3 linked regions of the Homo sapiens genome follow. The protein of the gene in region 2 interacts with the protein of the main gene of each other region in a pairwise test. Each region holds a gene or a part of one and is shown on either strand. Other genes may lie near its edges. The genes, in order: ANKS6, EMP1 and MS4A7.

Region 1 (3,752 bases), on a different chromosome or scaffold from region 2:
GGAAATGCTGGTGAAGGTTGCCAAGCAAGGGAGGTGCTTCTTGTGGGGGGAACAGCCACAGGCAGGCTGGGGACACGTGTGGGAAGGGAAGGGGGTGATCAAGGACCAAAAATCAGAAAAACAAGCACCCAACTGACCCCTCCTCCCTGACGATCTATAACCTACATGTTCCGTGCTGCCTCCACACATGCCCCCGCTGGGGTGCCCTTTCTCTTCCCTGCCTACCAGCCGCATCCAAACATCCCCAGAAAGGGTGCCAGGGACCTCTTGTGAACCAGCACACAAACTTCCTAGGATGAAAAGCCTTGGACACTTGAGTCCAGTGAAAAAGAAAGGAAAGGCATTGTCTGGAGCCTCTGCTGTCCTGTCTGCAAAATGGGAATAGCCCCGCTCTGTCCAGGGTCATCCAATGAGTTCATGGAGGTCTACATTTGTGAAAAGGTGACCCCCCGGTGCAGCTGTGTATCATTGTTCAATCAAACTTACCTGAGTGGAAGCTATACCAGTATATTGTTATGAAAAAAACAGGACCACAGCAAAAAGCAGGCACAAAACCTCAAAGCACATAACGTCAGGGGCCATGAATTTCAGAGGCAAACAATTCTAGGCCTACTGTTAACCCCTGAAGCCATCAGTAAATTAAAACAAGAATCACAAGTGCTTCTAGCTCCAGGAGTCTATAGGAGTTAGTGGAAAAGGCACAGGCTTGCAAGCCCACCAGGTCCGGTTCTGACCCCAGATCTGCTCCTTCTGGGCTGTTTAACTGGCAAGCTGCTTCCCTCTCCTAAGCATCCGTTTCCCGAATGTGCAAGATGAGGTTACACAATGCCACCTCCAGGGTGGCCATGAGGATGAAATGACAAAGGTAAAGCTGCCAGCACATAGTAGGGGATGAATGAGTGTGTCTCCTTAAAAAGGCTGGGACATTAGTAACCTTTGTAAAGGTGTCTATCAGTAACAGCTAAATGAAACACTTTGTCTTCAGTCCTGTGGAAAGTTGGCTTCTGTGAGTGTAAGGCTGAGAGAATTTAAAGGAAAAACACCCAACCATCAGGGCAGGGGAAGAAAACTACGAGGCTCTGGGCAGTAAGTTAACGACAGCCTCTGAAAGCCAGCATAGGGGAATGGGCTTTCATGGCTGGGGGAGGGACAGATGAGAGATGGCACCTCCCAAGGAGACCAACTTGTGGCTCAGCATGGCTCAAGGTAGAGATCAGAATTCTGTGCAGCCTACCATCGACTGGGTACTTCCTGCAGACCCAGCACTTTGGGCATACTGGTTCTAAGCTCCAACTAAGAGGCCATTGAGCTTCATCTGAACTTTGAACCTGAGTCCAGAGCACAAGGTCTGCCCACTCTACCATGCTGCCTCTCAATGTCGGGACCATCTATTTACAGGTGTTCTCTTGCCTGTCGAGAGCCTGAAGGCTCTGTATTGTGTCTGCACACTTGGCACCTGGTAGCTAACATAAATGCAACAAGCACTGGCTGAATGAGTCATTCACTGGAAAACACTTCAGAAAGCCAGTGGGTTTTAAAAGTCAGGGCCCCTCTAATTTAATAAAATATGATATGGTAGGAAACTACACAAGCCAATTCCCTTTTGAGGAACACAGCATTAATAGGATGTAGACAAAATTCCAAATTTTCACTTCTTTGCCTAGAAACTTTGAGCACCAGAGACCTTTACACAATGTGACCCATTAGCCTTCTGCTTCCACTTTCAGTGCAGAAAGCCCTGCAGTGATACAGGTGAGCACTGTGGAGTACCAGAGCATCATCTGGTCTGACCTTCCACTTTGCAGATAAGGAAACTGAAAGCTAGGAAGAAGAAGGGATCCACACAGCAGGCCTCCACTTCTTTCCTTCTATAATAGACTCTCTTTGCAATAAAGAAAAATGCGTTTGACATACACATCTCCAATGTAAGCTGTATGCAGCAGGTGCAGTGGAATGCTACAGCAGTCACATACACAGCACTAAGGGACCCAGTGGCTGAAAGGGGGTCAAAAAAGACTTCATCTGAGAGGTGACTTGGACTAGGAGGGGCAAGTTAGAAGTTTTAAGGGAAGATGTGCCAGGAAGGCTAACCTCTCACCATAATACATACCCCCCATCTAAGTCAAAAGTTGTTGCTGGGAAGCCACTATGTGGAGACTGCACATCCTGGCCTCCTCTGCATCCAGGTGGGGCCACATGACTACCAGTGGCCAAGAGGACGTGAGCAGGAGTGATGTGTGTCAGTTAAGAGCAAGGCAGGTAAGAAGCAGCCGTGCCTTCTCCATCGTCCCTTTCCCTTGCCGCCAGCCAGAAGCAAACTCTGAGGCTCCCGGGGAGGGCAGAGCACAGGATGAAAGGAGCTGAGTCCCTGCATCACTGTGTGAACCAACCTGCCAAGCAGAAGCACCCCCACTGGACTGTTACATGGGAATCTGTCTCTGTGTGTTGAAGTTTGTTGCAGCAAGAAGTACTACCAATGAATGCCGTCGACGTGAAGTGGGCATCCCGAGCAAAGGGAACAACATGACTAAGGCACAGCAGTGTGACGGGGGCAGGGCTGGGGCTGTGGCCACGTGAAGGGGTCCCGGGATTCAGAGAGCTCACGCTGGTGGCTGCGGGAAGGAGGATCACGCACAGGGGCTGTTGCCAGGGGCCCTGGTGTTGCTGGCACTGCTCTCAAAGGAAGAGTGAAAGTTGTGAATGGTTTCCTGTAAAATTTGTCTCTCGCGTCCCTGTGGAGGAAATTGAAAACAGACACAGAAAGTCTTATTAAACCTTTTAACCATTAATTCAATTGACACAGTGTTGTTAATGTTCAACTCATACTTCAAAAACCCATGGGCGTCTTGGGGAAAATAAATTACCTAACTGAAAGAGTACCGAGTTCAATAAAAACATACTGAGTCAGAATCTCCCCAGTACCCACCATCGCAGCCTGTCAATGCTGGAGAGGCCCTGGGATGCAGGACCCCAAACCCCTGGACAGAGTGGGAGGCCGAGTCCGGGGCAGGACTGACTTCTCCCGAGTCGCACGGCCCGGATTCGAGGTCTCCTTTCCTGCGCCTCTGTGCATCTTTCCAGTCCTTAGATTTCCAGATAATTCAATGGGAGCCAAGTGTCCTTCTGCTACAGGATAAGAGTTTAAACTGCCTTTGCTTCCCTTTGCCCAAAAGCTGCCGGATTTGTCTTCACAGAGATTCACTTCTCACTCTATTCCTACAACGCCCCCTGCCCCCTATACACACATTTTCAGATGAGAAAAGAGGGTGGATGTGAATGTTCTGTTAAGCCCAGAAAACATCATCACTGCATTCCAGGCTCGGAGGCAGCAATACTCAGAGGTTAAGAACAGAGACTGCGTCCTAGCCAGAGCAATCAGACAGGAAGTCAAACTGTCGCTGTTTGCTGATGACATGATCGTTTACCTAGAAAACCCTAAAGACAGCTCCAGAAAGCTCCTAGAACTGATAAAAGAATTCAGCAAAGTTTCTGGATACAAGATTAACGTACACAAATCAGTAGCTCTTCTATACAACAACAGTGACCAAGCTGAGAATCGAATCAAGAACTCAACCACTTCTATAATAGCTGCAAAAAAATAAAAAAAAAAAATACTTAGGAATATACCTAACCAAGGAGGTGAAAGACCTCTACAAGGAAAACTAGAAAACACTGCTGAAATAAATCATAGATGACACAAACAAGTGGAAACACATCCCATGCTCATGGATGGAGAGAATCAATATTGTGAA
Region 2 (3,752 bases):
CTTGAGGTTATTCACACCCTAGACAGAATGGATGTGTGGATGCCCCAACCAAGGGAGGAGATGGCCAGGCGCATCCTGCAATTGTTCCACTGCCCTCTCTCACTCCACCTAATTTAATTGATGCTTTGAATGTGCTTGAGGCACTTTCATGCCACATCAGGTATTTATTAGAGAGCACTGATACTATAATTCCAACACTTCACATGCCTTTTATCTCCTCTCACTGTCTTTATCAGGCAACCAAAAATCTAGAGTGATCTAATATACATCAGGGTGCCTTGCTCTCTGCAAGCAAGGAATGAGAGGCAGACAATGGCTTCCACCATTCTCCCTGACCGTCTCCAACAGCCCCTTCCCAATCTGGCCACTTCCTTCCAACCCAGGCTGTTTTTTAGGAATGTGTCCAACTTAACTGTGAATGCAAAAATTATGACGTTTATCCTGCCTCTTCAGGGGAGAGGTTGGAGCTTTCATGTCTGCTATTAGTAATCCCCCCACACATTCAAATTCATTTTTGCTTTTCTCAGGTTCTAGCACACCTCCCCAATTTTCTGCTTGACTTAAATGCACAGTAAAAAGAGATTTTTGAATCAGACAGAGGATGAATTAGAATCATATCCAGTTATTTGACCGCTCATCTGTTTCCTCATTTAGAAAGTGGAAGTCGCAATGTCAATTGCAAAGGGAAATGTGAGGATGAATTCAGATTGTTTATGTAAAACACCTAGTGTCTGACACATGGCAGCTACTAATAATGGGGTTGCTTTAGCTGCGGTTATTATTATTACTATTATTCATAAGTGAAGCCGGGTAGCTGTTGCCAACCCAACCCAGTTACTCAATCGCTAGGCTGCCCCATGTTAAGTGCAAGTAATAAGATATCTGCTGTCTAGTTCACGAGGCAGGGTGTATACAATCCTTTCGGTCCTCTTAGAAATTGTCATTTGTCTAACCCTTGCCCCTTAAGGGGGGAGACCTCTAAGAGCACACCCTCAGGAAAGACCAGGAGAAAGTTCACTTTCTCAGCCCAACTTCCTCATACCTCCCAAGATTCACACCTCACCAGATCCTGATCTCCTTGCCCCCTATGGGGAAAGGAACAGGCTGATTGCAGGGAATTACAAATATTACATAACGAATACTTATGTTTAATCCTCCTCGGGCTCTTCAAATGACTTTCTTGTTCCTGTTGCTTCTAATTTACAAACATCCTCTTCTTAAAAGGGGGAAGGGCTGGAGGGGCCAATGACAGAATATAATCCACCAAGTGAGGCCACTTAAATGAGTCACAGAAAACATTCCCTCCCTGATAGGCTGTTGGGAATTCAGCAGCATTTTGTCTCCTTGGGTTGCTCTGTAACCCCTAAAGTCAAGTCTGATTTCCTCTGCCCAGCTCACACTCTCTGTCTCAATGACCCCTCCCACGGCACCTCTACCTGGGCCCATGCATCACAGCCCTGGTGGTGTGTGCGAGTGCCTGGCCCCTGGATCCACCTGACCATATGCCCTGCCCATTGCAGGCTGGAAGAATGGATGTGAGAATCAAGCAAAAGAGCGACTCTCTTTCATCTTAGATTTTTGTGATGGTGCCCTCCCTGTCTTTTCACCACGGAAAGAAGCAAAATGTCTTGAGTTAGCAAGCGGTCTTGTGCAAAACACACAGTTCTCTCTGTTTTTAGCTGCTGTATCCAGCCAGAAGGAGGGGCTGTTTAGCTTAAGCTACAACTTCTCCATCTTTTCACTGGCCCATTATTTGTCAGGTTTTACTAATATCATTCACTGTCAGTTTAGAGGGGCTTCCATTATTTTCAATGGCCTTCCCCCCAACACAGGTGAAAACAGAATGAGTTATCTTCTTGAGTTTCTGGGCTGAATCATCCCTAGTTACCCAGTCTTTACACTGTGCTAGATACCTCCTGCCCCCAGGGAAACCCTCAGTCTGGGAGGAGGCGATCACTGAGGTCTTTATGAAAAAGCCATTAGTGGTAACTAATGGGTAAATGTCTGGGCATTTATCAAATAGCAGAGTATAATAAACAGAAGAACCCCTGCTCCTGAAACTTCCACCCACCCATTACTTGCAAGGTAGCTTGTGGGGAGATTCATTCTCTGCCCCATTGTGAATCTTGCTTCATACAAAGGCACTGAAAAAAATACCATTTATGAGAATTTATACCATTGGAAGTATTGGTGGCTACTACTTATTTCTTAGCAGTGTGTTTCACTAAAACAATAGTAGACTTCTCCCTCAGCCCTCTCTAAAATGATATGGGTGGCACTCTCCAGTGGAAAGCATACCCCTAGTCCTAGTGAGGCAGCGCAAACCAAGATGCAGAGAATCACAGCATTGCAATTCTGAATACTTTGAAGCAAGACCCGCTTTTTGCAGAGCATTTGGTGCACTGAGCAGTTCCAAAGTTGTAGGGGAACGCTCATAACAGCGTTCATTTGTGGTGCTTAGACTCCCAGACCTAGGCCAGCAGAGCTTATCAATTCATTGCATTTTTAAAGAACAGGCCGTCCACTGACTTCTATGTGGATGCCAGGAACACATTTCTGTACCCACCACTGTGAGTGGAGGATGATCTCCTTCTTAAGCCTCATCTACCTAACATACATGGCACAGGGGCAGTTAGGGGCTGGGTGGGAAACTGAGGAAGGTATAGGACCCATGTATGTTGACTCTGGAGAGAAGTATTATTAAGAGAAATGGAGATCAGCACCTCGGAGCCACACACAGGTCTCTGATATCCCTTTTCTGTTCTTCTTTCTGCCCTAACGGACAGGCTTGCAGTTCCCTACCTCTGACCACCATCTTTTGTTTCTGATCACTGTTCCTCCTTTTCTTTCTGCATTGCCCAGACCACACTAGAGCAGAGGTGTCTTTGTGCTCCTAGCTCTAATGCAAACCTCACAAACACTGACCATTCAGTATTCAGATAAAGTTCTTAGCTAACAGAATAGCTAATATAGTCAGTAGAAATAACCCTGAGGGAGTTCGAGATCATCCTGGCTAACGTGGTGAAACCTAGTATCAATTAAAAATACAAGAAATTAGCCGGGCGTGGTGGTGCACACCTGTAGTCCCAGCTACTGGGGAGGCTGAGGCAGGAGAATCACTTGAACCAGGGAGGCGGAGGTTGCAAAAAGCCAAGATCGCTCCATTGCACTCCAGCCTGGGCAACAGAGCAAGACTCCGTCTCAAAATAAAATAAAATAGAACCCTGAGGATTAAAATTGCTCGTGACTATAGCTCTAAAGGACTAACTAATATGAGACATGAGGGAAGGGAAAGAGGGATAACCAAACCTCTCAAGTTATCTCCATCCATTTAAATCTTTATTGGCTTCTTGCCTCCCTCTTACACACCACACACACACACACACACACACACACACACACACAAATGAAAGAATCAAAGGAACACAGCCCTGAGACTGCCATGCATTGCCTTGTTGCCTTTGTTCAGGCAGCCTAACACTTTTAGGGTTCTCTGACCAGTGAGAAATTACTCAGGCCCCCATGGGAGCCTTTCCTTTTCTGGTGGGTAACTAAATCTGCAGAGACTTTGAGAAGAATTGACTTCTAAGGACCAGAAGGGAAGTTTAGAGGTGCATAATTTGGTTCCCTGATTGCTAACCTAGGAGTCAGATAACTTCTTCCTGTCCAGAAGTCTGTGTGTTCACTGAACTGCCATGGGGCCTGGCGGCAGCAGCAATTCTTTAAGAGTGACCTAAAACACAATAACTGGG
Region 3 (3,752 bases), on a different chromosome or scaffold from region 2:
CTGTTTGTTCTGTTTGAAAGAGTGCATAAAGTACCACCATTACAAGGGAATACAGTTTGAAGAAGAAAACAAATTAGCTCCTTAACTTTCAACTGCCACCCGATCACTCTTGTTTCCTATGCACATATTCTTTACATTCTCTCTTCCCATCTGTCACTTTATCTCTCTCCTCTTTATATATGTTCACAGACATTCACAATTCTACGGAAATAGTCATTCTATCCATGCCATTTTATAACTGTTCTTTTTGTACTCAACATTATTCTGTAGACATCTTTGACCGATGAATAGAAATAATAAAAAGCCTAAATTTAAAAGCAAATGATAGATTCTGATACATGGCACAACATGGATGAACCTTGAAGACAATATGGCAAGTGAAATAATCCAGTCACAAAAGGACAAATATTGTATGATTCTACTTATGTGAGGCACCTAGAAGAGTCAAATTCACTGAAAGTAGAATGGTGGTTGCCAGGGGCTGGCGGGAGAGGGGAATGGAAAGCTATTGTTTAATGGGCACGGAGTTCCAGTTTGGGAAGACAAGAAAGTTCTGGAGTTGGGTGGTGGTGATGGTTGCACAATGGTGTGAATGTGCTTAATGCCACTGAACTGTACACCTAAAAATGGTTAAGGCTGGGTGCAGCGGCTCATGCCTGTAATCCTAGCACTTTGGGAGGCCGAGGCGGGCAGATCACCTGAGGTCAGGAATTCAAGACCAGCGTGGCCAACATGGTGAAACCCCGTCTCTACTAAAAAAATACAAAAATTAGCCAGGCATGATGGTGAGTGCCTGTAATCCCAGCTACTCAGGAGGCTGAGATGGGAGAATCGCTTGAACCTGGAAGACAGTGGTTGCAGTAAGCCGAGATCACGCACTCTAGCCTGGGTGACTGAGCAAAACTCTTTCTCAATTAAAAAACAAACAAACAAACAAACAAAAAACAACAAAAAAACACATGGTTAAAAGGCTACAATTATTTTAAGCATATTTTACTACAACCAAAAAGCCAAATGGTATATTTAAATAAATGGAGGTCTCTAGATTCATTTAATCAATCACATGTTCATGACTATTTAGGTGGTTTCTATTTTTTCTTTTTGCCACTATGAACAATGCAATAATGAACATCTTTGCACTTTTGTGATACCTCCTGCATTTAATTATCTCACAGTGATGTATGGAAGTGGAATTATTACATTTAAATCTATGACACTTGAATTTAGATACACGTTGCTACTTTTAGAAGGAATCCTATATAACCAAGATTCTTTATGTTTCACAAAAGTCTCCAGACTGATGCTATCATCTCCAAACACCACAGTCTGAGAGGATGCTTTGTCCTTCCACATTCGCCTTGAGGAGATAGACTGGAGGGACCCACAGCTTTCAAGACAGCTCTAAAATCCGTGCTTTGAAGATAAATCATGACATGGAGGTCAACAGCTCTGCCCAGCAATTTTCTGTATTACAGAATTAGAGTAGGACCATGGGGTTCTAATGCAAGATTCAGTCTAATTGCACAGTATTTGTTGAGAGTAGACTCTGTAAGACTGAGTGACACACCAGGAGAATGCAGAACATTGAGGAAAATCACCTCAATGAGGGAAACCTAAGAATGGTTTTACCCAATTTTCTTATTTGACAAGTGAGTAAACTGAGACCCAAAAAGGGGACTGAGCTGACGCTCCAACTCACACAGGTGGTCAGAATCAGAGACAGGATGATAATCCAATTCCCTGGCTGTCTTTTCAAAAGCACACAATCTTCCCCAAAAGTCATGATCTAAACCAAGGTGTCTACCTGTTCTCGCAGCCTGGTCCTGTGTGCTGTGGCTGGGGATCAGCTCACCTCTGGGGAGCGCTCAGCTGGAACCTCCCACTGGCTGTTCCTGCCAGAACGATCTTGGTGCTCTGCTCTCCAGCCTCTGAGACTTCCTGTCCCTTTCTTAGAGCAGTATTTATGATTACACAGGATGTGAATTTTGCTGTAGTTACAGACAGTTGATATATAAAAAGTGCCTCTGCTTCCTCTTTCTAAATTCTGAGGTCTGGCAAAATGACACAAGATAGAAGTGACACATGAGAAAAAGACCTTTGTGCAGACTAGTGATTTGTACGGTCCCAGTTAAAATTCATTTTCCCTACTCCTACATAGAATTATTTAAGTCATCTAGTTTTGCTTAGCCTGAGTTTTCTTGTCTATTAAATAAATGGTGGATGGATAATAATAATTCCACTCTGTGGGTGTTGGGAGAATTAAAGAAAAAAGATGCAAAGAGTTTACAAAAAGTAGACAATAAATATTGATAATAGTAATGTTAGTTTTGAATTTTGGAGAATCTATTCTCTCACTTTCCAGGCTCTTGGTAAGCTGAAAGCAACCTGTGGAAAATTCCGTGTCTCCTTGTTACTTCTTTTGGGTGTTTCCATTCTCCATCTTTGGCCTCATGCTCAGGGAAGTCCAGGCACATCTTGGGAAAGATGCCAGTGGATTGGCCTCAGAGGCAGAGTCATCAGGCTCCACACAAGCTCATATTTGGGGAAGTATTTGTTGTTGAGGGGACACTGTTGCCACTTTCACATCCCTTTTAAGGCTTCTTGTAGACTAGCCATTGTTCAGAAGGGTAGGGTTTAAGATGGCTCTGGGACATGCAGCAGCTGGCGGCACAACATGCTCCATATACAGTCTCCATTTCCTGAAGGGTGGCAAGGCTATCCCCTAAGAGAGGAGCAAACCTAAGCCTGGGAGATTTAAATAACTCATAAACTACTTGGAGGGTATTTTAGTCCAGTTCTTCTCCAAATGAGGTGATATTGCTGAAGGAATCTGCCCCCAGTCACATGTCTAGTCTGTGGAAGAGGCAGGAATCTAATTCACATCTCTTGGCACTGAGGTCTGGGCTTGCTTCATGGCAAGAGTCTGCCATTTGGTCAACATCTTTTTTTTTTTTTGAGATGGAGTTTTTTGCTCTTGTTGCTCAGGCTGGAGTGCAATGGTGCAGTCTCAGCTCACTGTAACCTCCACCTCCCAGGTTCAAGTGATTCTCCTGCCTCAGCCTCCCCAGTAGCTGGGACTATGGGTGCCCACCACCATGCCTGTCTAATTTTTGTATTTTTACTAGAGACAGGATTTCACCATGTTGGTCAGGCTGGTCTCGAACTCCTGATCTCAGGTGATCCACCTGCCTTGGCCTCCCAAAGCTGGGATTACAGGTGTGAGCCACTGTGCCCAGCTTAGTCAACATCTTCATATCCACAACAAGCACTGTCTTTGCTTAAGAAAACTTCCAGGATCCAGACCTTCCTCTGGGTCTATGACCTGTTTTGACCAAATTGTTAAAGAACCTTGGTCATTTGGGCTTCTTTCACACTTCTGAGCCTCAGAAGGAATTCGTGAGAAAATCAGTTAAATATCCAGTTCACTTTCTCATAAAATTTGAAAAAAGATTTTTCAGAATTGTTGTGAGGATTAAGTCAAATAACATAAAAGTCCCCACCATAGAGCCTGACATAAATGAACCATTAAGAAAATCTGGTATTTCTTGTCCAACATCTTCTCCCACCCCCTTTAGAGAAAAGTGTATTTTATCTCTAGATTGATCTCTGATCTCTAAGTGTAATCTATGTTTACTCTAAATTCATGCTCTTTTCCATTGATGGAAATCTCCTCAGCCCTTTGCAAACAGTCCTGGTGCTCTAGACAGGCAAGTGACTCACAGTCCTAGTGCCTACTTCAAGGATACGATCTC

Evidence for each region.
Region 1: the proteins of EMP1 (region 2) and ANKS6 interact in binary tests that used the Homo sapiens proteins (3 or more experiments, as listed by UniProt).
Region 3: the proteins of EMP1 (region 2) and MS4A7 interact in binary tests that used the Homo sapiens proteins (3 or more experiments, as listed by UniProt).

What each region holds. Positions count from the first base shown.
Region 1 is NC_000009.12:98,733,892-98,737,643, forward strand, and holds part of ANKS6 (ankyrin repeat and SAM domain-containing protein 6), read right to left. Parts: intron 2,733-3,752; coding exon 2,628-2,732; 3' UTR 1-2,627.
Region 2 is NC_000012.12:13,206,581-13,210,332, reverse strand, and holds part of EMP1 (epithelial membrane protein 1), read right to left. Parts: intron 1-3,752.
Region 3 is NC_000011.10:60,376,717-60,380,468, reverse strand, and holds the start of MS4A7 (membrane-spanning 4-domains subfamily A member 7), read right to left. Parts: upstream 1,938-3,752; 5' UTR 1,805-1,937; intron 1-1,804. UniProt on the Homo sapiens protein: May be involved in signal transduction as a component of a multimeric receptor complex.